Homo sapiens: one gene and its partners. The main gene of each other region encodes a partner of the protein of the gene in region 4 in a complex. Each region holds a gene or a part of one and is shown on either strand. Other genes may lie near its edges.

The links.
Region 1: PLRG1 (region 4) and CRNKL1 share a complex: the UniProt entries of both Homo sapiens proteins name them as parts of the minor spliceosome.
Region 2: PLRG1 (region 4) and BUD13 share a complex: the UniProt entries of both Homo sapiens proteins name them as parts of the minor spliceosome.
Region 3: PLRG1 (region 4) and SNRPD3 share a complex: the UniProt entries of both Homo sapiens proteins name them as parts of the minor spliceosome.
Region 5: PLRG1 (region 4) and DHX16 share a complex: the UniProt entries of both Homo sapiens proteins name them as parts of the minor spliceosome.
Region 6: PLRG1 (region 4) and PPIL2 share a complex: the UniProt entries of both Homo sapiens proteins name them as parts of the minor spliceosome.
Region 7: PLRG1 (region 4) and SNRPD1 share a complex: the UniProt entries of both Homo sapiens proteins name them as parts of the minor spliceosome.

What each region holds. Positions count from the first base shown.
Region 1 is NC_000020.11:20,038,967-20,042,466, reverse strand, and holds part of CRNKL1 (crooked neck-like protein 1), read left to right. Parts: coding exon 1-142; intron 143-841; coding exon 842-901; intron 902-1,700; coding exon 1,701-1,781; intron 1,782-2,618; coding exon 2,619-2,858; intron 2,859-3,500. UniProt on the Homo sapiens protein: Involved in pre-mRNA splicing process. As a component of the minor spliceosome, involved in the splicing of U12-type introns in pre-mRNAs.
Region 2 is NC_000011.10:116,748,988-116,752,487, forward strand, and holds part of BUD13 (BUD13 homolog), read right to left. Parts: intron 1-3,500. UniProt on the Homo sapiens protein: Involved in pre-mRNA splicing as component of the activated spliceosome. As a component of the minor spliceosome, involved in the splicing of U12-type introns in pre-mRNAs.
Region 3 is NC_000022.11:24,569,499-24,572,998, reverse strand, and holds part of SNRPD3 (small nuclear ribonucleoprotein Sm D3), read right to left. Parts: intron 1,084-3,500; coding exon 1,022-1,083; 3' UTR 1-1,021. UniProt on the Homo sapiens protein: Plays a role in pre-mRNA splicing as a core component of the spliceosomal U1, U2, U4 and U5 small nuclear ribonucleoproteins (snRNPs), the building blocks of the spliceosome.
Region 4 is NC_000004.12:154,543,901-154,547,400, forward strand, and holds part of PLRG1 (pleiotropic regulator 1), read right to left. Parts: intron 3,165-3,500; coding exon 3,111-3,164; intron 2,314-3,110; coding exon 2,223-2,313; intron 2,024-2,222; coding exon 1,936-2,023; intron 647-1,935; coding exon 545-646; intron 1-544. UniProt on the Homo sapiens protein: Involved in pre-mRNA splicing as component of the spliceosome. Component of the PRP19-CDC5L complex that forms an integral part of the spliceosome and is required for activating pre-mRNA splicing.
Region 5 is NC_000006.12:30,666,507-30,670,006, forward strand, and holds part of DHX16 (pre-mRNA-splicing factor ATP-dependent RNA helicase DHX16), read right to left. Parts: intron 822-3,500; exon of another isoform or gene 679-821; intron 308-678; exon of another isoform or gene 1-307. UniProt on the Homo sapiens protein: Required for pre-mRNA splicing as a component of the spliceosome. Contributes to pre-mRNA splicing after spliceosome formation and prior to the first transesterification reaction.
Region 6 is NC_000022.11:21,676,012-21,679,511, reverse strand, and holds part of PPIL2 (RING-type E3 ubiquitin-protein ligase PPIL2), read right to left. Parts: intron 1-3,500. UniProt on the Homo sapiens protein: Has a ubiquitin-protein ligase activity acting as an E3 ubiquitin protein ligase or as an ubiquitin-ubiquitin ligase promoting elongation of ubiquitin chains on substrates.
Region 7 is NC_000018.10:21,625,814-21,629,313, reverse strand, and holds part of SNRPD1 (small nuclear ribonucleoprotein Sm D1), read right to left. Parts: intron 253-3,500; coding exon 176-252; 3' UTR 1-175. UniProt on the Homo sapiens protein: Plays a role in pre-mRNA splicing as a core component of the spliceosomal U1, U2, U4 and U5 small nuclear ribonucleoproteins (snRNPs), the building blocks of the spliceosome.

The DNA of each region.
Region 1 (3,500 bases), on a different chromosome or scaffold from region 4:
AAGTGACGCAGAAGCTGAAGCCGTGAGAGAAGTCTATGAAAGGGCCATTGCCAATGTCCCACCCATTCAGGAGAAGAGGCACTGGAAGCGCTACATTTATCTTTGGATCAACTATGCACTCTATGAAGAATTGGAGGCAAAGGTGAAAAAACAGAATTATGTGTCAGCTGATAATGGTTTCCTGTCTTCTGTATTCACAGCTCACCTATTGTGGATGTTTGTAATTCTTGAAAGAAGGAAATTTAGTTTTAAATTTTTATAGGCTTCTGTTCATCCATACAGTTATATATTCGCTCTGCAACATTTTAAACCCTCTGTGCTTGTTGTGGCCACACGTGAGGGGCTTTTTTAACTTTGGTTTGATTTTTACTTGAGGCACAACAAGATATCACTTGGAGCTTGAAAGAGAACAGTGAACCAGCCCTTAATTTAGTGAAATATAGTTTCCTGGATTTGCTCATTAATAGGAGTAATTCTGGCTAGATTATGCATTTTTGCTTTTAGCAAAAATCAAGTGGCATTTTCAGAAATCATTTGTATTAACCTTCTGGGTTTGATCTGAGACTATGAAACATCTTTGTTTCTTTCTGCCATCAGGCAAAACGGCTTTCTACAAAGAAGGGCTTAGAAGTTTGGTGGCTATCTTGTTGGTGATTCTTAAACTGAAGTTTCATGGCCGTTCATACTTTAGATCATAAATCAGGGTTTGCAAGTAACAACTTGTGAAACATGCTGTTTTGGGGGTGTACATTTTTACCAATATCAGTAAAATTAGTAACTAGTAAAATGAGTGTTAGCAGCAGACTTCAATATTTTGTGAAAATTTCTTATCCTAATACAGGATCCTGAGAGGACAAGACAGGTGTATCAAGCCTCTTTGGAACTAATTCCTCACAAAAAGGTATGTTTGCTCTAAAGTGTTCCATTTCAAACAGGTCAGAATCCTCTTCTGTTACTTGTGAAGTAATTCAGTGAAATAATATTGATTGATAAAATGCTTCCCTGTCCCACCATGGACAACATAAATAAGACTGAGATATGCTCCTTGCCTCTGAAAACAGCTCACAGACTAGGTTGGAGGACAACCTGCATTGACAAACAAATAATATAAATTCAGAGAAGGCTAGGTAATGTGAATAGTCTGAGTGGAAGGAGAAAGACATCCATGCAGAGAGCACACAACGTGTGCGGGGGACACACAGGCGGGTTTGTTGGTAACAGTGAGTGTGTGCATGCACAGATGAATGTGCCCCTTGTGTAGATGGTTGAGATGTTACCTCCGCCTTGTTTCCCAGCACGAGAAACAAAACGTGTTTCCTTCTGTAGAAGTGTTGACTGAGTTACTTTTCAGAATAGAGGTAGGACATTCTGCCCATATACAAGCATGCCTACAAAACAAAGTCTGTTCTGAGCAGAGGCTACCGTGCCATACAGTACAGTACAGTATCTGGATCATGGTTCTCAGGAGAGGTTACCATGCCATGCAGTACAATATAGTATCTGGATCATGGTATGTGGGTTTCTAACTTTTGTGAAATGAATGTGGTCTTTGCTTGTAAATAAGCAGAGTACATTCCTCTTACTCTGAAGTTTTAGAGAAATCGAATTACCAATGGCTTTGGTTAATTTAAATTAATTTTAATTCAATTTAATTTGGATGAGGCTTTTAAGCTAGATATTTTTGTGCTTTTGTTTTCTAGTTCACATTTGCCAAAATGTGGATACTGTATGCACAGTTTGAAATACGACAGAAGAATCTGTCATTAGCCAGAAGAGCATTGGTAAGTAAAGAAAGGATCAAGATGTCTCATCAAGTTCTATGAGAAAGAAATTAAAATCTTGGTGCTTGGAAGTTGTACAGTTCCTACTTTAAAGAGTGACAGAAGTATTATACCTTTATAGCCTGGGACATGTTAGAAAACATGCGTCCTCTGTAAAAACACTGACTAATAATGCGTAAATTATTCTTATTACCTGGGGCAAATTAACATTCTGTTTCAATATTGGAAACTTCTATAGCTACCAGTTACTAAATCTTTCCACAGACTGGAATTAGTAATCTGATCCTGTGCAAACTTTTTGGTGTGTTAAATGCACTTTTAATTGTTCCACTTTTTTTTTCTTTTTTTTTTTTTTGTTTGTTTGGTTTTTTTTTGAGACAGGGTCTCGCTCTGTTCCCCAAGCTGGAATGCAGTAGCGCGATCTTGGCTCACTGCAACCTCTGCCTCCTGGGCGGAAATGATCCTCCCATGTTGGCCTCTCAGAATGCTGGGATTACAGGCATGAGCCACCATGCCTTGTCCTTTTTATTTATAGGAGGTTTTATGCATTTGACATCCCTATTCCCTAGGAGATCCTGAGAAACTTTCAAATCTTATTTTATTTAGTTGCCCAAACAATTCTGGAACACTGCCTCTTGCTGAGTGAATTAGAGGAGTTTCCTTCAGCCTTTTGTCAAGAACCAGTAAACATTGTGATACCACAGAGGGAAAGAATGGTAGGCCATGTTGACTTTGCAAGATTCTTCCTCAGCAGAGAACAGCCTCTAGGGCAGTGCAATAACTGCACAGATTAAATCCACTACAGTATCACAGTGGTCTGGTTATTTTATTTTCCAGGGAACTTCCATAGGCAAATGTCCAAAGAACAAATTATTTAAAGTTTACATAGAATTGGAGCTACAGCTTCGAGAATTTGACAGATGCCGGAAGCTTTATGAAAAGTTCCTGGAATTTGGACCTGAAAATTGTACCTCATGGATTAAATTCGCTGAATTAGAGACAATCCTTGGTGATATTGACAGAGCACGGGCAATCTATGAATTAGCCATCAGTCAGCCACGTTTAGACATGCCAGAGGTGAGCATCTCAAGTCAAATATAATTTTGTTTGAGATACGTGTTTAGTCTTACTTTAGATGACCATCTAAATGTGGGTGTATTTTAGAGTATAACGATGATCTAACTAACTTAGTCTCTTCTACTCAGATTAGGCTTGTACGTGGAAAGGTGGCTGTGGGGGACAGGGGAAGTAGCCCTCTCATTAGATACCAGAGCAGTAGACATCCAGGATGATGCCCAGGATGAACTGGGATATCATGGGGGTGGGTGACGCCCCTTCTGCAGCAGGAAAGCCTAAAGGGGCTGGGGAAGAGGCCAGGCAAGGAAGAAGCCAGCAGGCTGGCCCACCCGGAGAACGAGGGGGATGGAGGTAGGAACTGCACATCCCTGTATTCTCTAAACCAGGATGTCCTTGCAACTTCTGTTGTCACTGTCCTGAAAGTCCTCGCCTGCCTTCAGTAGTTAAGCTTGACCCACAAGGTAGCACCAAACCACAGCTAGGAAAGATTTGAATCTCACATGAGTCGTAGAACTCACCCAGCCGTTTTGTTAATCTCATGCACTAACATGACCCTGCATTTAATGGTTTGGCCCCCTGATTGCATTAATTAAGGCAGGGCTTTGGGTATCACTGAGTTCATCAGTTGTCCTCGGCTCCTCC
Region 2 (3,500 bases), on a different chromosome or scaffold from region 4:
AAAAAAAAAAAAAAGAAAGAAAGAAACAAAAAAGAAAAGAAAATATTTAAGGCATATGCAATAGAATCAAAGGGACAAAATATATCATTCATCCTTTTCTTAGTCCTTGTTCACACCCTTCCCCCACTCTGACAGCTATTTCAAACGTTTGCCACTCTAAAAGCCTGGTTCTCTCTCAGCTGATGTCCACATCTTATATTTTATCCATTCATTACACAAACATTTATTGAATTTTCATTATATACTAGGTACCATGGTAGACACTACATGAAAATGAGTATGACACAGCACCTGTCCTGATGAACTCCCAGACTAGTGGAAGAGAGAGACATTTAAACAAATAAATTAAAAGAACAGCATAAACTCTGGTAGAAATACGCATGGGGTGTCATGGAAACAGAATGGGTATCTTAATCAGCTTGGGGGAGGTATGATAAAAAGGTGACATGAGGGTTGGGCAAGAATGATCAGTAAAGGCTCTGTGTTAACTACAGCACTGGGGATGGAAGGGCCAGAAAGGGTCTGGAGGTCATTTCAGAACAGAATGAGCAACAAGAACAAAGGCACGGAAATAAGAAGTGGCCTGGTATGTGCAGCAAACCAAAGGCAAACTGGTATGGCTGGAACCTGAAGTATGACAAAGGGAACAGCCATGAGTCAAAGTTGGAAAGGCGCAGAGGCCAATGCATAATGAGCTGCGTAGGCCATGGTAAAAAGCTTAGATTTCATCCAGAAACGATGGGTTTAAAGCAAGAACTTAAACTGCATTTCAAAGAGATCACTCTGGAGGGGATCTGGGGCAGGAAAATCACTGCAATGGTCCAGGCAACAGATGATGAAGGCAATGATAAAGAGGGACGGAAGAGAGAAGACACAGGAGGCAAAATTAGTAAGACTAATTAGCAGCACTAATTGATTAGGTACACAAGGACAAAGAAGGAGGAGGCAAGTTAGAGAGCACAAGAGTAGGAGCAGGCTTACAGTAGAAGCTGATGAGTTCAGCTTTGAATACAATGCATTTGAAATCTCTCAAGTCTAAATCAATAGAGAAATCCAACAAACAGCTAAATACACCAGACCAAGATGCAAATACTGATTTGGAAATCATGTACATATAGGTCATAGTTGAAAACATGACTAGGTAAGAATCAGCCAGAGGGAGCACATAGAGTGAGAACAGCTAAAAATTATGGATGGAGCCCTGGGAAAGACTTAAGAGGTGCACAGAGGAAGAGGAGTTTGCAAAGGTGGCCAAGAATGATCAGAGAAAAGAACCAGGAGTAGGGTGTCATGGAAAACAATACAGGGGTGAATTTCAAGGAGGTAGTGAGTGGACCTCAAATCCCTTTAATTACCATGCATTCTCTTGGTCTTCTTATCTAAACTTCTTAAAAAGCCTGTATTCACTATTTGTTTCCTCACTTTTCATTCACTCCTTAATACATTAGAACCTGGCCATTGTTTCACTACACAACGGAACTAGCCCTTTCAGGTCATCACTGACATTCCTTGTTGCCAAATCCAATGACTCCTCCTTCCTCTTCCCCAAATCAGCAAACAGGTCCCACCAGCTCACCCCTGACCACATCCCCACTTCCTATTCTCTTACTAACCATCCTTACTACCACTGCCTGCAAGTCGTAGTTCAGACACTCATTACTTTCAGCCTGAGCTACTGCAAAAGCCTTGTATCTGTTCTACTTCCAATCTTGTACCTTTCAAATCCTTCATATTACTGCTATAATGGATTTGTCTATCTAAAATGCAGAGCTGTTTTTAATCCTTCCGTGTCTCCCCTTTACCTCTAGGGTGAAGACCAAGCTCCTCAGATAGGCTTCCAGGGCCTTCTGTGATCACGGTCTGCCAACCTCTCTCATCCATCTCACGCTTTATGCTATCCAACAACAGCAAATTACTTAGGGACCCCCACCACCTGGTAACACCATGGTGTCTCATAGCCTTATGACTCTGCACATATAGGACCCTCTTCCTTTAATATCCTTCCTTTCCTTCTTATCTTGGCTGGTTACCAACATCCCTTAAAACTCAGCTCCCACATTTCATCCGTTAGGAAGCACTTCCTGATCACTCACATCCTCCTAAGGCTCAACTTACTCTTCCTTTGTGCTCCCAAAACATCTTGAAAATCTTCTATAGTAACACTAACCAAACAGCGTTGAAACTGTCTGTCTTCTATTCTAGATTGAAAGTGAGCTCCTGGGCTCAGGGGCTATCTCTCTTTAATCATGGAATCCCTAGTACCTACTACCTAGCTGCTTACACTTATAACATGTATGCTAAGACTTTCCCTTAAGGGATGAGTGGAGTGAGTAACAGAGGGCTTTAAGAAGGGAAGCTTGGCCGGACATGGTGGCTCACGCCTGTAATCCCAGCACTTTGGGAGGCCGAGGCAGGTGAATCACCTGAGATGAGAAGTTCGAGACCAGCCTGGCCAACATGGTGAAACCCTGTCTCTACTAAAAATACAAAAATTAGCTGGGCGTGGTGCTCACGCCTGTAATCCCAGCTACTCGGGAGGCTGAGGCAAGAGAATTGCTTGAACCTAGGAGGCGGAGGTTCCAGTGAGCCAAGATCGTGCCATTTTGCACTCCAGCCTGAGCAACAAGAGCGAAATTCCGTCTCAAAAAAAAAAGAAGGGAAGCTTATTATAAATGGCATCCTCTCCAACCTTAGAAGCATGGATGGTATTCCAAAGCACCAAGGAAACCACTGTTTTTTACCTTGGAAATAAGGTCTTAAGAGAGTTACACTAATATGATAATACAAAGGACATATGAATAACAAACACCAAATCCTAAGCAGAATCAGAAAACAAATTGCAGGAGAACTCACAGTGGAAAGAGCTTTGGACCAGAGAATCAGGAACGCAGAGTTCTAATTCCAGCTTTCTCAGGGAAATTGCATGACTCTAGGCAAACTGCTTATTTATTGGGCCTCAGTTTCTCTTTTTTTTGAGACGGAGTCTTGCTCTGTTGCCCAGGCTGGAGTGCAGTGGCACGATCTCGGCTCACTGCAAGCTCCGCTTCCCGGGTTCACGCCATTCTCCTGCCTCAGCCTTCCGAGCAGCTGGGACTACAGGCGCCCGCCACCACGCCCAGCTAATTTTTTGTATTTTTTTTAGTAGAGACGAGGTTTCACCATGTTAGCCAGGATGGTCTCAATCTCCTGACCTCGTGATCTGCCCGCCTCGGCCTCCCAAAGTGCTGAGATTATAGGCATGAGCCACCGCACCCGGCCCCGTTTCTCTTTCAATTAAGAGAGGCTGGGTAATTATCTTATGGGTTTTTCCAACAGATACTATATATCTGTTCCGGAAATATTCCCTTGCAGCAGGCCGAAAAGAGACAAAACTAGAAAAGATGATGAAAGATGAATAACAAAAAGAAAGCAAGGGTGACAAAGGGAAATAAGAGAAGAAATCTAGGATAAAATCAGAACAAGAAGTGGAAAAAAGCAACTGAGAAAAATGAAGACAAATT
Region 3 (3,500 bases), on a different chromosome or scaffold from region 4:
ACTCCTCTCAAACAATCCTCTACCTCAGCCTCCCAGAGTGCTGGAAGCAAGCCACTGTGCTGAGCTGCTGGTCACCCTTCCTACATTAACAACTATGGATGTGCCAATCAATGCTGAGATGCTCTGATATGCTCCCAAGAATCTGTTTCCACAAATCACCACAAAACTACTTGTTGTAGCCAGTATACGAGCCAAGGAAGCTGGCCACTAGGATCCCCTGAATTACTTTTTTTTTTTTGAGGTGCAGTCTCGCTCTGTCACCCAAGCTGGAGTACAGTGGCATGATCTCTGCTCACTGCAATGTCCACCTCCTGGGTTCAAGCGAATCTTCTGCCTCAGCCTCCCGAGTAGCTGGGACTACAGGTACATGCCACCGCACCCGGCTAATTTTTTTATTTTTAGTACACACGAGGTTTCACCATATTGGCCAGGCTGGTCTCGAACTCCTGACCTCGTGATCCGCCCGCCTTGGCCTCCCAAAGTGCTGGGATTACATGCGTGAGCCGCCGCACCCAGCCCCTGAATTACCTATGACTTTATCAAGGGAAAGAGTCACCTGTGTTGTTAAAGCTGAGCTGATGACAGCTCCACAAATGTTAACTGAACAAAGTGCCACACTATGTGCCTGTGTCTGAAGATGAATGAGACACAATCTGTGTGTTCTCGGAGCTTCTCCAAGGTGAACTTTTCTGGGGCTTAACCTGCAACTGGCCAGGAACAGCAGCTTAAAATCTCATCAATAGCTGTGCTATTTCAAAGTACTGGCATTCTCCCAGGACATCCCCCAGGGTGTCAAAATTTAGCCAAAGCAAACTTCAAATGAACACAAAGTCCTTATTTTCTCAAAGAAAACAAAACAAAACAGAACAAAAAACCCCCCAGATTTATTTAGCTTAAACATTTCCCCTGATCTAAAGAGAAAGATGGCAAAAGATACCTAGCATATATGCACAAGCACCCACTCCAATGAACTCAGATAACCTGAAAGAAAAAAGGACAAAGTTCTGTTCAACTTAGAAAATTATCTTCGCTTTTGAAAGATGTTTCCACGTCCCATTCCACGTCCTCTTCCTCTTGCGGCCACTGAAAGGGAAGAGAAAATATGAGGCCAGGTCAGTGTGGTCGGTGAATGCTCATAGCACAGAGTAGCCAGGGCCCTAGGACACCAGTTAGAAGGGTTCTGAAGGGTTACCTGGTCCAACACCACCCTGGCCATTGCATTTCCACCTCCCGCCTTTTTTTTTTTTTATTTTTTGAGACGGAGTCCCACTCTGTCACCCAGGCTGGAGTGCAGTGGCATGATCTCGGCTCACTGCAATCTCCACCTCCTGGGATTAGGCGATTCTCATGTCTCAGCCTCCTACTTGAGTAGCTGGGACTACAGCCGTGAACCACAACGCCCGGCTAATTTCCTGTATTTTTAGTAGAGACAGGGTTTCACCATGTTGGCCAGGCTGGTCTTAAACTCCTGACCTCAGGTGATCCACCCACCTCGGCCTCCCAAAGTGTCAGGATTACAAGCATAAGCCAACACGTCCAGCTGACAGCCACTGCATTTAACAGGGGGGATGGAGACGGAGGGGCAGGGGCTGGGGACTGGCATCAAAGCAGGAGCTAGCAGCACACTCTTGCCTTCCAGTCCCACACTGCTCTCTACAAGAGGCTGGGAGGCAGCATGCTGAGGGCAAAGAAGGTGGTCTGAGAGCTACAGAAAAGACAAATCCTTGGGGCTGGCCTTGGGTGAGCTGAAAAACATTATAGATGCACTGAATTAATTTTTTCAATTCTGAAACAAATATAGTTAAGTGTTAACATGTGTTAGATCTGGGAGAAGGGTTATATTATCTTTTGTATTTTTTTCTGAGAAAATAATTATTTCAGGCTGGGTGCAGTGGCTCATGTCTGTAACCCCAGGGCTTTGCGAGTCCAAGGCAGGCAGATCACTTGAGGTCATAAGTTTGAGACCAGACTGGCCAACATGGCAAAACCCCTTCTCTACTGAACACACAAAAATTAGCTGCACGTGGTGGTATGCGCCTGTAATCCCAGTTACTTGGGAGGCTGAGGCAAGAGAATCACTTGAACCTGGGAGTTGGAGGAGGTGGCAGTGAGCTGAGATCAAGCCACCGCACTGCAGCCTGGGTGATGGAGACTCAGTCTCCAAAAAAAAAAAAAAAAAAAAAGAATTATTTCATAGTAGCAAAAAGAAAACACACTCCATATAAATAGCATGATAAGACTGCTGTTCTCCTCTGTAACCCAGGGGTTCTAGGAGAAGACAGGCTTTGAAGAACAAATAAAATATTCTTTTTTTTTGAGATGGAGTCTAGCTCTGTCACCTAGGCTGGAGTGCAGTGGCACGATTTCGGCTCACTGCAACCTCCACCTCCTGGGTTCAAGCGATTCTCCTGCCTCAGCCTCCCGAGTAGCTGGGACTACAGGGACCTGCCACCATGCCCAGCTAATTTTTGTATTTTTAGTAGAGACGGGGTTTCACTGTGTTGGCCAGGCTGGTCTCGAACTCCTGACCTCGTGATCTGCCCACCTCGGCCTCCCAAAGTGCTAGGATTACAGGCATGGGCCACTGCGCCCGGCCCCTCACACTATTACATCTTTAAACTTGAGCTTTCATCTATGGTTCCCAGCTCGTAACTCCTATAGTCCTTGTTATAGTCTTTTGTTATAACATTGGGGCACTTTAGGCCTCAGAAGCAGGACTCAGGAGACAGAATCTCTCTCTTGAAACTTCTCCTGCCCTCCTTTCACCTGCCCAAGGCAGGACCCTAATCTGATTGTGGGTCATAAGACCTCACTCCAGAGAAAGGTCCTGCCCTATACCCTGGAGGAACAAATGCTGCAGAGAGAGGCCAAAAAGAATCTGGACAGGCCTCGCGGGGTTTCCCAACCCCGTCTATTAGTGTTAGATCACACCCATTTTGTCTAATGGCATTTCCACATGGTTGTCCATCCTTTAATCATGACTATCCAATAAAGTCTCCATAAAAGGCCCAAGAGGGCAGGGTTAGGGGAGCTTCGGGACAGCTGATCATGCGCAGCCTGACAGGAAGGTGAACAAGAACTCATCCATGTGCCGGGAGGAAACTCCATGGGGCTAGAAGCTCTTGTGCTTGCGACCCTTCCAGATCTCACCCTATGCATCTCTTCATGTGGCTGTTTATTTGTAGCCTATAAAATATCCTGTTATAAACCAGTAAATTTAAGTATGTGATTCCCGAGTTGTGTGAGCTACTCCAGCAAATTAATCGAACCCAAGGAGTGAGACGTGAGAACCCTGGCTTGAAGCCATTCAGATGTTCTGGAGGCCTGTGCTTATGAATAATAGTGGGGGGTGCAGGGGCTGTCTTGTGGGACCGAGCCCTCAACCTGTGGTTTTTCAGGCTATCTCCAGGTAGATAGTGTCAGAACTGAAGGACACCCAGCTGGTGTCTACTGCAGAACTGACTGCTTGCTTGGTCACAGAAGTCTTTGTTGATTGTTGT
Region 4 (3,500 bases):
GATATTTTGGTATAGGCAAGCAATGCAAAATAAACAGTATGGAACACTTCACGAATCTGTGTTATCCTTGTGGAAGGGCCATGCTCATCTTCTCCGTACCATTCCAATTTTAGTGTATGTGCTGCTGAAGTTAGCATGCATGTCCATTTTCTTTTAGATGATACACTCTGAATCATTTTCATTTATTGTAGTTGAAAGAGTAACTGGTAGGCCCAAATAAATTTCTTTATATGGTGTTTTTCCCCTTCACCTTCAAACTAAATACTTTGAACACTTTTTCTACATTTATTTAGTCTGCCATCCATATTTAGTAGCTTTATCTTGACATTTCATACTATTTTATATAAAAGTATAACTTTTGCTTAAGGAAGTCACCTTCCCAAGAGATCTTTTAAGATACTCCCTACGACTCTTCTCAATCCACCTCAGATCGCTCTACCAGCTTTTCATATTCACTCTTTTTCCTCCTTATTCTATTCTTCAGTGCTTGTCAACTACAAAGCAATCATGGTTCACATAATAAAATAAATGCAGAGTCACTCACCCTGTAGAGTTTCCACGGTGGGTGCCACTGGGGTTTTGGCATTGTAGGGGCTTTTTTAGCCATCAGTGCAGAGTTCTTGGTATTGCCAGTCTCCATGACAATCTAGACATAGAAGAGACATTATTATTATTAAAGACATCATACCTAAGGCTTCATGATATCAATTCAGAAATGGAAATGGAAAGAGGGAACTTACAAAAGAATTTTTCCATAAATGAAGAAATACAATTTTCTGTATGTTAACTTAAAAAAGCAATTATAAAATCACAGACAGGCAGAGCATTAGACTTAAGAGCACACATCACTGTGTACGGGTTCAAAACCCAGCTTGGCCAATTACTAGCTGTTTGACATTAGGTAACAATCATGTAACCTCTATGTGGCTCACCTGTAAAATGGGAAGAATAGTGCCTATTTCATAGGGTTACTACAAAGATTTAATAAGTAGTAAATGCTCCATGTAAGCTCCCAATATTAAAGTCATTTTAAGTGTATTAGTGCCACTGTCTTTCATTGTCATATTTTAACATTATTGGTTTAATATAGCAAAGACTGACAGTTCCTTCTATTTATCTTCTAATACAATATTTAAATACTATTTTAACAGGTATACTGCCTGATATACCATCTGTTGTTAGCAGTCATCTAGTCATCCAAAACATAAATAAGCCCATAAAGTTCCTGCCCTCAAGAAGCTTAAATTATACCCTCATAAGGAGGGTAGAGAGCCTGGACAGAAGACGTGCTCTGAATGGAATAAAGGAGGAAAGGAGATGTGGCAGTTACACATTCATTCACTTCATAAAGTCAAATCAATTGCATAATGAGCTGAGAAGCAAAACCAGCACTTATTTCAAGTGGCAGCATATTTTATTATGCTGCAGATAAATCAATAAAATAACTATAGAAAATTCAACAACTATTTCTACCATACTAATACCAGTTGCCATTTACTTACAAACAGATAAACTTATTTCTAAATGCTCATTTATAAGACTAGTTGTATAGCCCATGAATAGTACAACACTAACAGCACTCAAGATAACTGTACACACCAACTTAAAATTTAATAAAAAAAAAAAGACTTTCATATTCAATACATACTAACACAAGTTTCAGAAAAACTCTCCTTGCATTTTTAATAGTGGGCAATAAATACCAACATCACATTATCTTTATCAAAATATATATTACACACAATGTACAAGTAGACAAATAACAGAATTAAATTCCAAAAAATACGTTAATTTACTACCAACTTGAGTTTTAGGGCTATGAAATATGAATGACTAGCTCAGGCTGCTATTTATCTTAATAATTCCAAAGAAGAGGGAAATATGGCAACATGTTCCAAAAGTTAGAAACCTGCTATTTGATGCAGAAAAACTTACTGAATTCATCGCTGTAGGCTGTGGACGGTCAGAAGCCCCAGGATGTCGGTATTCACTTCCACTAGGGGCAGTACGATTTGCATCAGCCCTGGGGCAAAAGAAATAATATTTTCAAAGTAATTAATGCCTCCAGTCATGTATTCTGCAAAACTAACCCTTTATTTTAAATTGTTATAAAGTCCTGATAAAGGAAAATGTCATATAATAGTTATAAAGAAATTTTAAAAAGAAAAAATGTGAACAGTGAAATATGCTTTTAAGATCTTTGTAATTATAATATTTCATACTTGGTCTGCAAAGGTAATGCCACCGCTAAGGACTGTGCAGCTGATTCACTTGGCATTCTCTGGATCTTAGTATCTGCTGTCAAAGCAACCCCTATTAAAATGAAAAATCAACTTCTTTTAGTAGCTGTGTATTATTCATTTACATGCACTTAAAATAAAATGATGAAGGAAAACATACACCAAATGTTTATTATCTCCAGGCAGTGATATTATACAAATTTGATTAAGTTTTGCTCATCTTTGTTTTTAATTTCTACAATAAATACTGCTTAATAACACGTAACTCAAATTTGATTTGATCACAGCCCACATGGTATTAAAGCAGCCCAGAATAGTAAAGTTAATTTCCATTATATTTGGGTATTAGTTTCAAGTCAGTATTAAGCAGTTCCTCAAATACTAACAGAATGTTTCCAAGAGTGGATGTAACTTACTAAAACTAGAAACACCCAATTTCCCTGTACTTTCTTTACATACTAAGCCTTTTGTCCTCTACCCTGTTACACTGGCCACTCCATCTGTGGACCAATGCCTTAATACAGACAGAGGACATGTTTCTCAGATACTGCTTCTAACATTTCCATCATTTTTACAAGCTTAGTGATATTTACATGTCTGCCTAAACCACCAGATAATAAATAACTAGGCCTGCAACAGTTTTACTGTCTTTGAATTCCTAGCACATTGCCTGAAAAATTATACGTACTTAAGAATGTTTGCTGAATGAAGGCATATGAGTATTCATTATTACCTACAAAGCTATGCATGGATGCTTGGCTACTGAGCTTATCTTGCATTTTATAGGCAACAAGAATCTCATTATTGGCTCGTTAGTGAAAATATATGTGACATTTTTAAGACATTTTCAATATATAACAGCTCACTAACCAGGTCCTGGTGGGTATGGATGTGTACCTGCCACAAAGTATTCAACTTCTTGTCCTAAAAAAACACAAAAAAAATCAACAGTAGTGAATTTACCTTATACAAAAGTTATCATCTCTTTAAATGTATCAAGTAATATTAAGTTTTCAACTGGATCTATCAAATTTTCTCAACTAAAGTCAAGCCTCAGAAATAAGGGAAGTTGATCACTTTTGCTTTGATCTCTGTAAACCATGTCCTTGACCATTTGCTATATAGCAATGGTATACAAAGAAGCCCTCCTATCAAGTGACAATCCACTCTGGTATTTCTTCCAAGCAAATGGTTTCCTGTGGAATCTTGAATTCTCTTTACTTATTAAGATTTCAGTATTTAATTTCATCTTTCTGAATT
Region 5 (3,500 bases), on a different chromosome or scaffold from region 4:
CAAAGCCCCTCTGGTGGCTGGGTGGGCGTGGTGACTCACACCTGTAATCCCAGCACTTTGAAAGGCTGAGGTGGGTGGATCACCTAAGGTCAGGAGTTAGAGACCAGCCTGGCCAACATGGTGAAATCCCGTCTCTACTGAAAATACAAAAATTAGCTGGGCATGGTAGTGGGCACCTGTAATCCCAGCTACTCGGGAGGCTGAGGCAGGAGAATCATTTGAACCCGGGAGACGGAGGTTGCAGTGAGCTTAGCTCACGCCATTGCACTCCAGCCTGAGCAACAAGAACAAAACTGCATCTTTAAAAAAAAAGCCCCTCTGCTGTTCTACCCTTAAGGGGCCTGGTTCTATTTAGTTGTTTGGCTTTTCTTGTTTGTTCTGTAAAGACTTAAAATGCAGTTTATGATCATGACCTAATCTGGGTACCACAGTCAAATATTCCTTCCATGGAAGAGCCAGATAGATTTTTTTTTTAATATGGGCAAAAAATCAGAGCCATTTGAGCATTAAAAAGAATAATGATGTGAGATTATAAAATACTGAAAAATAAAAATTCATGAGTCCAATTTGACACACACAAACAAAAAACAAGGGAAAAAAATCTGTCACCAGTGAAATGACTGTTACAGCAAACGCCTTACTCTAAAAATTCGTATTTAAAAGGAAACAAACATTTACCCTTTTTAAGAAGGAACTGTAGCTTGTTCCTAGTTGTTGAGGAAAAGCTCTTCTTTATAGACAAATTCTAGCCAATACACGTAACAGGAATGACAGAATCAAAAAATCACCATTTCGGCCGGGCGCGGTGGCTCACGCCTGTAATCCCAGCACTTTGGGAGGCTGAGGCAAGAGGATCACGAAGTCAGGAGATCGAGACCATCCTGGCTAACATGGTGAGACCCCATCTCTACTAAAAATACAAAAAATTAGCCGGGCGTGGCAGCAGGCGCCTGTAGTTCTAGCTGCTCAGGAGGCTGAGGCAGGAGAATGGCATGAACCCGGAAGGCAGAGCTTGCAGTGAGCCGAGATCGCACCGTTGCACTCCAGCCTGGGCGACAGAGCGAGACTCTGTCTCAAAAAAAAAAAAAAAAAATCACCATTTTGCAATCCCCAATAAAAATAACATGTTCAGGAAAGGATTACCAGTGGCTTCTAAAAGCATTTGATGAAAGGCTATTGGTAGAAAGGATATTAATACTAATATATAGATACACAACTGGATAGTATGTCCCCGTGATATGACATAATATGAAGTGCACATCACCGCCCAAGAAGTGTTCCTGCCACAACTGTTTAATCTGAGTGTCAATAAGCTTTAGACCCAATTCCTGCTTCAAAGAAAGCACAGGGCAGAGAAGTACTTAACACCACAAGATAAGAATCAGGCAAATCCAGAATGTAGGACACTGCAAGGTGAGACAGACAGAGAGAGAAACAAACTTAACATCTAAGACCCAAATGCAATGCATGAACCTTGACTGCATTCTTGTTAGGAAAAAGCAGTCATTAAAGTTATTTTGAGGGTAATGAGGGTATCTTTTATTGTAGAGAGATCTTAGTCGATACATAAGAATTACTGTTCAACTTCCTGACTGTGACAAGAGCATTCTGATTTTAGAGGACAATATCTTTATCCTTAGCAGGTACACACTGATGTACTTAGAGATAAAACGCCATGATGTCTAAGACTCTTTTAAATGGTCTGAAAAGAAAAAACATACCACATTTACAATTACAATGCAAATACTACCCATAGTATTAACCATTTTTCAATCTGAATAGTGTCTATGAGTGTTCTTTGTTCTATTCTTTCAACTTCCCTATGTGCTTAAATATTTTTGTAATCGAAAAAGAAAAATTACAGCTGGGCACAGTGGCTCACGCCTGTAATCTTAACATTTTGGGAGACCGAGGGGGGTGGATCGCCAAAGGTCAGGAGTTTGAGATCAGACTGGCCAACATGGTGAAACCCTATCTCTACTAAACATACAAAAATCAGCCAGGCATGCTAGTGCATGTCTGTAGTCCCAGCTGCTCGGGAGGTTGAGGCAGGAGAATCACTTGAACCCGGGAGGCGGAGGTTGCAGTGAGCCGAGATCATGCCACTGCACTCCAGCCTGGGCGACAGAATGAGATTCTGTCTCAAAAAAAACCCGAAAAATTAAATTCAGGCCAAAACAGTAACACCACTACCACCACAACTGCACTGAGATGTCCCAGAAGCCTAACCACAGTCAATTTCAGGAAGAGATATGAGATAAATTGGTCAGGAGAGACCTGGGAACCAGTAGGCCATTCTTAGAACTCCAAAAGTTGGCCGGGCACGTGGTGACTCACGCCTATAATCCCAGCACTTTGGGAGGCCGAGGCAGGTGGATCACCTGAGGTCAGGAGTTCAAGACCAGCCTGACCAACATGGAGAAACCCCATCTCTACTAAAAATACAAAATTAGCCAGGCGAGGTGGCTCATGCCTGTAATCCCAGCTACTCTGGAGGCTGAGGCAGGAGAATCGCTTGAACTCGGGAGGTGGAAGTTGCAGTGAGCCAAGATCACGCCACTGCACTTCAGCCTGAGCAACAAGTGCAAAACTCTGTTTCAAAAAAATAAATAAATGAATTTTAAAAAGTAAAAACGGCCAGGCGTAGTGGCTCATGCCTATAATCCCAACACTTTGGGAGGCCAAGGCGGGCAGATCACAAGGTCAAGAGATCAAGACCATCCTGGCCAACATGATGAAATCTCCTCTACTAAAAATACAAAAAATTAGCCGAGTGTGGTACTGCAGGCCTGTAGTCCCAGCTACTCAGGAGGCTGAGGCAGGAGAATCGCTTGATTCCTCCACCAGGGAGGCACAGGTTGTAGTGAGCTGAGATCGCACCACCACACTCCAGCCTGGCAACAGAGTGAGACTCCATCTCAAAAATAAATAAATAAAAATAAAAAATAAAACAAAACAAATAAAAAGAAGGCTGGGCATGGTGGCTCACGCCTGTAATTCCAGCTCTCTGGGAGGCCAAAGCAGGTGGATCACAAGGTCAGGGGTTCGAGACCACCCTGGCCAACATGGTGAAACCCCGTCTCTACTAAAGGTACAAAAAATTAGCCAGGCGTGGTGGTGTGCGCCTGTAATCCCAGCTACTCAGGAGGCGGAGGTTGCAGTGAGCCGAGATCGCATCATTGCACTCCAGCCTCGGTGACAGGGCAAGACCCCGTTTCAAAAAAAAGAAAAAAGGTTTAAAAAAAAAAAAAAAAAAAAAAAGGAACTTCAAGAGTCTCAAAATTCTATTGGGGTATTGGGGAATCTAAGTGTGACTTTACTTGACAAGACCAGGCCTTTGGAAAACAGCTTACCCTACCTAGTTTCACACCATAAAAAGTCCAGTTTATGAATTACAAGGGCTCTGTCCCTGTCCAGTGAGAAGACACAGGGAGATCACAAAGCCACATAAGGGGTGCAGGAATTAGGTGGTGGGAAGGTATTTGGAGATGGTGTGCCTA
Region 6 (3,500 bases), on a different chromosome or scaffold from region 4:
TCCCACCTCAGCCTCCCAAGTAGCTGGGACTACAGGTGTGCTCAACCACACTGGCTAATTTTTAGGTTTCATTTTGTAGAGACAAGGTTTCATTATGTTGCCCAGGCTGGTCTTGAACTCCTGGGCTCAAGCAATCCTCCCACCTTGGCCTCCCAAAGTGCTGAGATTGCAGGCGTAAACCATGGTGCCCAGCTGTTTTTTTTTGGTGGGGGGATGCTGACGCGGGAGGATCACTTGAGCCCAGGACTTCAAGACCAGCCTGGGTGACATAGGGAAACCTCATCTCTACAAAAATAAAAATTAAAAAAGTAGCTGGGGCTGGGCGCGGTGGCTCACACCTGTAATCCCAGCACTTTCGGAGGCAGAGGCGGGAGGATCACCTGAGGTCGGGAGTTTGAGACCAGCCTGACCAACATGGAGAAACCCCGTCTCTACTAAAAATACAAAATTAGCCAGGTGTGGTGGCACATGCCTGTAATCCCAGCCACTCGGGAGGCTGAGCCAGGAGAATCGCTTGAACCCAAGAGGCGGAGGTTGCAGTGAGCCGAGATCACGCCATTGCACTCCAGCCTGGGGAACAAGAGCGAAACTCCATCTCAAAAAAAAAAAAAAAAAAAATTGGCTGGGCATGGTAGTACATGCCTGTGGTCCCATCTACTTGGGAGACTGAGGTGGAAGGAGCACTTGGTCCTGGAAGGTCGAAGCAACAGTGCGCTCTGATCATGCCACTACACTCCAGCCTGGGCAACAGGGCAAGACCATGTCTCAAAAACAAACAAACAAACAAAAATCCTTCTGATGTGAAAACTGTTTTTTAAATTGGGGCTTCAGCATCATGCAAGGGGGTACTGGTGGGAGCAAAGACAGAACTGCACAGATGGGAGACAGCAGGGGCTGGAGTTGATGATGGGCACAGGGGAGGCGTATCACACCTCCTCACTCCACTTTCACGCACGGGGAATTCCAATTAACAAAGAAACAGGTGGGGCGCAGTGGCTCACGCCTGTAATCCCAGCACTTTGGGAGGCTGAGGCAGGTGGATCACTTGAGCCCAGGAGTTCGAGACCAGCCTGGCCAACATGGTGAAACCCCGTCTCTACAAAAAACACAAAAACTAGCTGGGTGCAGTGGTGGTGCCTGTAGTCCCAGCTACTTGGGAGGCTGAGGTGGGAGGATCTCTTGAGCCCAGGAGGCAGAGGTTGCAGTGAGCTGAGACTGTGCCACTGCATTCCAGCCTGGGTGACAGAGACCTCATTTCAAAAGAAAAAAGGAAACACAACAAAAGAAGCTGACTGCCAGGTCAAAGTTTTAAAAGAAAAAAAAAGGCTGGACCTCATTCCTCCCTCAGTGGCTCTCATCTTGGAGCGGAAGCCCAAGTCCTCCTGTGGCTCCCAGGCCCCACAGGACTGCTCTGCACACCATCCCCACCCCTGACCTCTGTCACCACATCCCCTGCTTCCACCGCTAGCACACGCTGTTCCAGCCACATTGGACTCCCAGCTGGGCACAGACACCCTTGAGCGTGCGCCCACCTCAGGGTCTTTGCACTGGCTGTGCCATCAGCCTGGCCCTGCACTCCCCCGATGCCCACACGGCTCTCCCTCCCTGCAGCGGGTCAGGGCGGCCCTCTCCCCTCCCCCTGCTGTGCTCTACACACACAAGCAGCCTCTGGCACACCCTGCTGAGCTGCTCTCTGGTGTTCTCCCCCACCAGAATGCATGCTCCTCTCATTCAGGAGAGACACAGCCTGTTGTGCTCTCTGCACATGGCAGGCACTCAATAAATATTTGCTGTCCCTCCCTCTCCCTCTCCCGCTCCCGCTCCCCAGGGTCTCCCTCTGATGCCGAGCCAAAGCTGGACTGTACTGCTGCCATCTCGGCTCACTGCAACCTCCCTGCGTGATTCTCCTGCCTCAGCCTGCCGAGTGCCTGGGATTGCAGGCGCGCGCCGCCACGCCTGACTGGTTTTCGTATTTTTTGGGTGGAGACGGGGTTTCGCTGTGTTGGCCAGGCTGGTCTCCAGCTCCTAACCGCGAGTGACCTGCCAGCCTCGGCCTCCCGAGGTGCCGGGATTGCAGACGGAGTCTCGTTCACTCAGTGCTCAATGTTGCCCAGGCTGGAGTGCAGTGGCGTGATCTCGGCTAGCTACAACCTCCACCTCCCAGCCGCCTGCCTTGGCCTCCCAAAGTGCCGAGATTGCAGCCTCTGCCCGGCCGCCACCCTGTCTGGGATGTGAGGAGCGTCTCTGCCCAGCCACCCATCGTCTGGGATGTGAGGAGCGCCTCTGCCTGGCTGCAACCCCATCTGGGAGGTGAGGAGTGTCTCTGCCTGGCCGCCCCGTCTGAGAAGTGAGGAGCCCCTCCGCCCGGCAGCCGCCCCGTCTGAGAAGCGAGGAGCCCCTCTGCCCGGCAGCCGCCCTGTCTAGGAAGTGAGGAGCGTCTCCGCCCGGCAGCCGCCCCGTCCGGGAGGGAGGTGGGGGGCAGCCCCCGCCCGGCCAGCCGCCCCGTCCAAGAGGGAGGTGGGGGGCAGCCCCCGCCTGGCCGCCGCCCCGTCCGGGAGGTAGGGGCGCCTCTGCCCGGCCGCCCCTTCTGGGAAGTGAGGAGCCCCTCTGCCCGGCTGCCACCCCATCTGGGAGGTGTACCCAACAGCTCATTGAGAACAGGCCATGATGACGATGGTGGTTTTGTCGAATAGAAAAGGGGGAAATGTGGGGAAAAGATACAGAAATCAGATTGTTGCTGTGTCTGTGTAGAAACAAGTAGACATAGGAGACTCCATTTTGTTCTGTACTAAGAAAAATTCTGCCTTGGGATGCTGTTGATCTATGACCTTACCCCCAACCCTGTGCTCTCTGAAACATGTGCGGTGTTCACTCAGGGTTAAATGGATTAAGGGCGGTGCAAGATGTGCTTTGTTAAACAGATGCTTGAAGGCAGCATGCTAGTTAAGAGTCATCACCACTCCCTAATCTCAAGTACCCAGGGACACAAACACTGCAGAAGGCCGCAGGGTCCTCTGCCTAGGAAAACCAGAGACCTCTGTTCACTTGTTTATCTGCTGATCTTCCCTCCACTATTGTCCTATGACCCTGCCAAATCCCCCTCTGTGAGAAACACCCAAGAATGATCAATAAAAAAAAAAAGAGGTTTGGAGAAATAAAAAATAAACAATAACACACACACACACACACACACACACACACAAAATAAATAAATAAATATTTGCTGAATGAGACACACACACACACACACACACACACACACACACACTGCTGATCACAGGAGGGGAGGCAGCCCACCCTCGGCCACCAGGGTGGAGCGCCGTGTCCTCCACCGACGTCAATGACGTGCTGAGGTTCACCCATTCATTCACCTGCGAATGCTGCACCGACTGGGGACCGGGCTCTGGGCTCAGACAAGCGGGGCAAAAGGGCCTTGGCCTCAGGTGCTACAGCATCTCCCTGGAATGCATGCACCCAGTAAGCAAGGACAACCCCTAAGC
Region 7 (3,500 bases), on a different chromosome or scaffold from region 4:
AATGCTTAGCTCTCACTGTGGTAATTTCGTGAATGTGGAGGAAACTACTAAAACTTTGATATACTAAATAGACAGCTCTGTCCCACATTTATGTTTATTAAAAACTGACATAAACAAACACAACCTGTACAAAAAATATCCCAAATCTCATATGACTTTGAAATCTTGAGAGACATTATCGCCTAGGACCCCCTCTTCCTCTGCCACGGCCACGTCCTCTTCCTCTTCCTCTTCCTCTGCCTCTTCCTGCAACTGAAGGAAAAGAAAAACAAACCAAGTTCAATTCTCTCCTGCACCAATGTTACCTAGACACCACAAACAACATTTACACACACACCTTTCCCTGTTTATAGCTCTTTATTAGTAGCTACAGTAAATAAAGTTTAACTAGCTTCTGTTAAATGTGTTAGACTTCAGATTCCCTCCACCCCCCAACACATTATCATGCAGAACCAATAACTAAAGGCCTAGGGAGATTATTATTTGTTTCATTTCAATTTATTTACTAAGAAATGTGTCAAATTTAAAAATACTTTTTCTTTATATCATGTCTCAAATTCACCATAAAATGATTTGAACCTCACAAAAAAAGGGAAGATATATATCACAGAATAAAACATGATCACCTTGATGCCAGAGTTTTGGTAACTGAATAAAATCCAAGCAAGTTAATTCAAAACCAGGAAAGTTTAAATGTATTACATCAAATCACAATCTTATTAACTCTTCAGAAAATTAAAACTCATTTGACCTACACATAATCTAGTGCTTTAATCCAAATAGTAATATCCCTACTGGGTCATCCTAACTCTAGTTGAGTATCATGGTGATAGGGAATTCATGACCCAAATAAACTTATTTCATCTTCAGACAGCTAAGAATATTAGAAAATCTTGACATAGAAGTCAGTCACATTCTAAATGTTTTTGTTTTTGTTTTTTAAATACAGGGTCTCACTCTGTAGTCCCATCTGGAGTGTAATTACACCTCACTGCAGCCTTGAACTCCTGGGCTCAAGTGATCCTCCCATCTAAGCCTCCTGAGTAGCTGGGACTACAGGTACAAACCATCATGTCTGGCTAATTTTTAAAATTTTTGTAGAGATGAGGTCTCCCTTTGTTGCCCAAGCTGCTCTCAAACTCTTGGGCCAAAGCAATCCTCCAGCCTCAGCCTCCCAAAGTGGTGGGATTACAGGTGTGAGCCACCGCACCTGGCCACATTAGAAATTTGTACACACTGATTCTAGTCTTACCATTCTAAGCAATAAATAGTAAGTTTAAGATGCTAATTAAGGGACATTTCACAAAATAACTGGCCCGTACTCTTACAAAGTATCAAGGTCACAAAAGGAAAACTGAGGAGAACCAGCTGATACGCATTAAAGGAAACTAAGGAAACGTACAAGTAAATGCAACCTGTTGTACTGGATTGGATCTTGGACCAGGAAAAGGACATTAAAGGGACAATCAGAGAAATGTGAGAAAGGTCTCTAGATAATACAGTAGTGACACATCAATGTAAAATTTCTAATTTTTTGTAGTTATATGACATTTTAACATTTAGACAATCTTGGTGAAAAGTGTATGGGAATTCCTTGTACTATTTTTGCAACTTTTTGTGTCTAAAATTATTTCAAAATGAAGTGTTTAAAAAAATAAAGAAAATGGGAAAAACAGAGTTGGAGGGGTGTTGTAAAACAACAACAACAACAACAACAAAAGGGCTGGGCACCTGTAATCCCAGCTACTTGGGAGGTTGAGGCAGGAGAACTGCTTGAACCTGGGAGGCAGAGGTTGTAATGAGTGGAGATCGCGCCATGGCACTCCAGCCTGGGCAACAGAGCATGACTCTGTCTCAAAAAAAAAAAAAAAAAAAAAAACCCAAGAAAAGAAAATGGACCAGGTATGATGGTGGCTCACACCTATAATCCCAGCACTTTGGGAGGCCACAGCAGGAGGATTGTTTGAGACCAAGAGTTCAAGACTATCCTGGACAACATAGGGAGACCCTGTCTTTACAAAAAAATAAAAAATAAAAAATTAGCCAGGTTTGGTGGTGCATATCTGTAAAAAAGAAAGATAAATTAAGAAAACAACTGCTCACTGCAATCTCCGCCTCTCGGGTTCAAGCGATTCTCCTGCCTCAGCCTCCCGAGTAGCTGGGACTGCAGGCGCCCACCACCACGCCCAGCTACTTTTTTGTATTTTTAGTAGAGATGGGGTTTTACTCTGTTGGCCAGGCTGGTGATCCACCTGCCTCGGCCTTCCAAAGTGCTGGGGTTACAGGCGTGAGCCACCGCGCCCAGCTGCTGCTTCTTTTTTTTTTTTTTAAAGAAAGAAAATAAATGTTTATTCAAAAAAAAAAAAAATCCAAACATTTGGGAGGCCAACGCAGAAGACAGCCTGAAGCCAGGGGTTTGAGGCTGCAGTGAGCTATGATCATGCCACTTCACTGCAGCCTGAGCAACACAGTGAGATCTTGTCTCTTACCAAACAAACAACAAACAAAACAATTTTTTTTTTTTTTTTGAGACCAAGTCTCTCTCTGTTGTCCAGGCTGGAGTGCAGTAGTGCGATCTCGGGTCACTACAACCTCTGCCTCCCAGGTTCGAGCAATTCCCTGCCTTAGCCTCCCGAGTAGCTGGGATTATAGGTGACCGCCACCACACCTGGCTAATTTTTGTATTTTCAGTAGAAATGGGGTTTCACCATTGGCCAGGCTGGTGTTGAACTCCTGACCTTGTGATCCAGCTGCCTCAGCCTCTGAAAGTGCTGGGATTACAGGCGTGAGCCACCACACCTGGCCCAAACCAATAATTTTTAAATAACTCCCTAACACTAGACTATGACAAACTTGAAACGAAGACTCATTTTCATTATTTAATTTGTTGTAGTTTCCTTTTTTTTTTTTTTTTTTTTTGGCGACAGGGTTTTACTCTGTCACCCAGGCTGGAGTGCAGTGGCGTAATCTCGGCTCACCGGAGCCTCCATTTTCTGGGTTCAAGAAATTCTCCTGCCTCAGCCACCCGAGTAGCTGGGATTACAGGCATCTGCCACCATGCCTGGTTAATTTTTGTATTTTTAGTAGAGACAAAGTTCATGCCATGTTGCCCGGGCTGGTCTCGAACTTCCGAGTTCAGGCGATCTGCCCGCCTCTGCCTCCCAAAGTACTGGGATTACAGGCATGAGCCACCGCACCTGGCCAATTTCAGTTATTTTAAACCGTACTATTTTAAATGTGTACACACAAAAACTGTAAGTCTAGAACACGTTAAAATGGGCCAAATTGACCACACTTACCTTCAATTTCTTCTGAAATAGTATTTATGATAGAAAAGGAACAAAAATGATAACTACCCAGAGGAACAAAGAAAAGCAGAGAAAACACAGTAGATAAAAGATTTTGGGCCAGGCACCGTGGCTCACGCCTGTAATCCCAGCACTTAGGGAGGCCCAGGCAGGCGGATCATGAGGTCAGGAGATCGAGACCGCTTGGCTAAC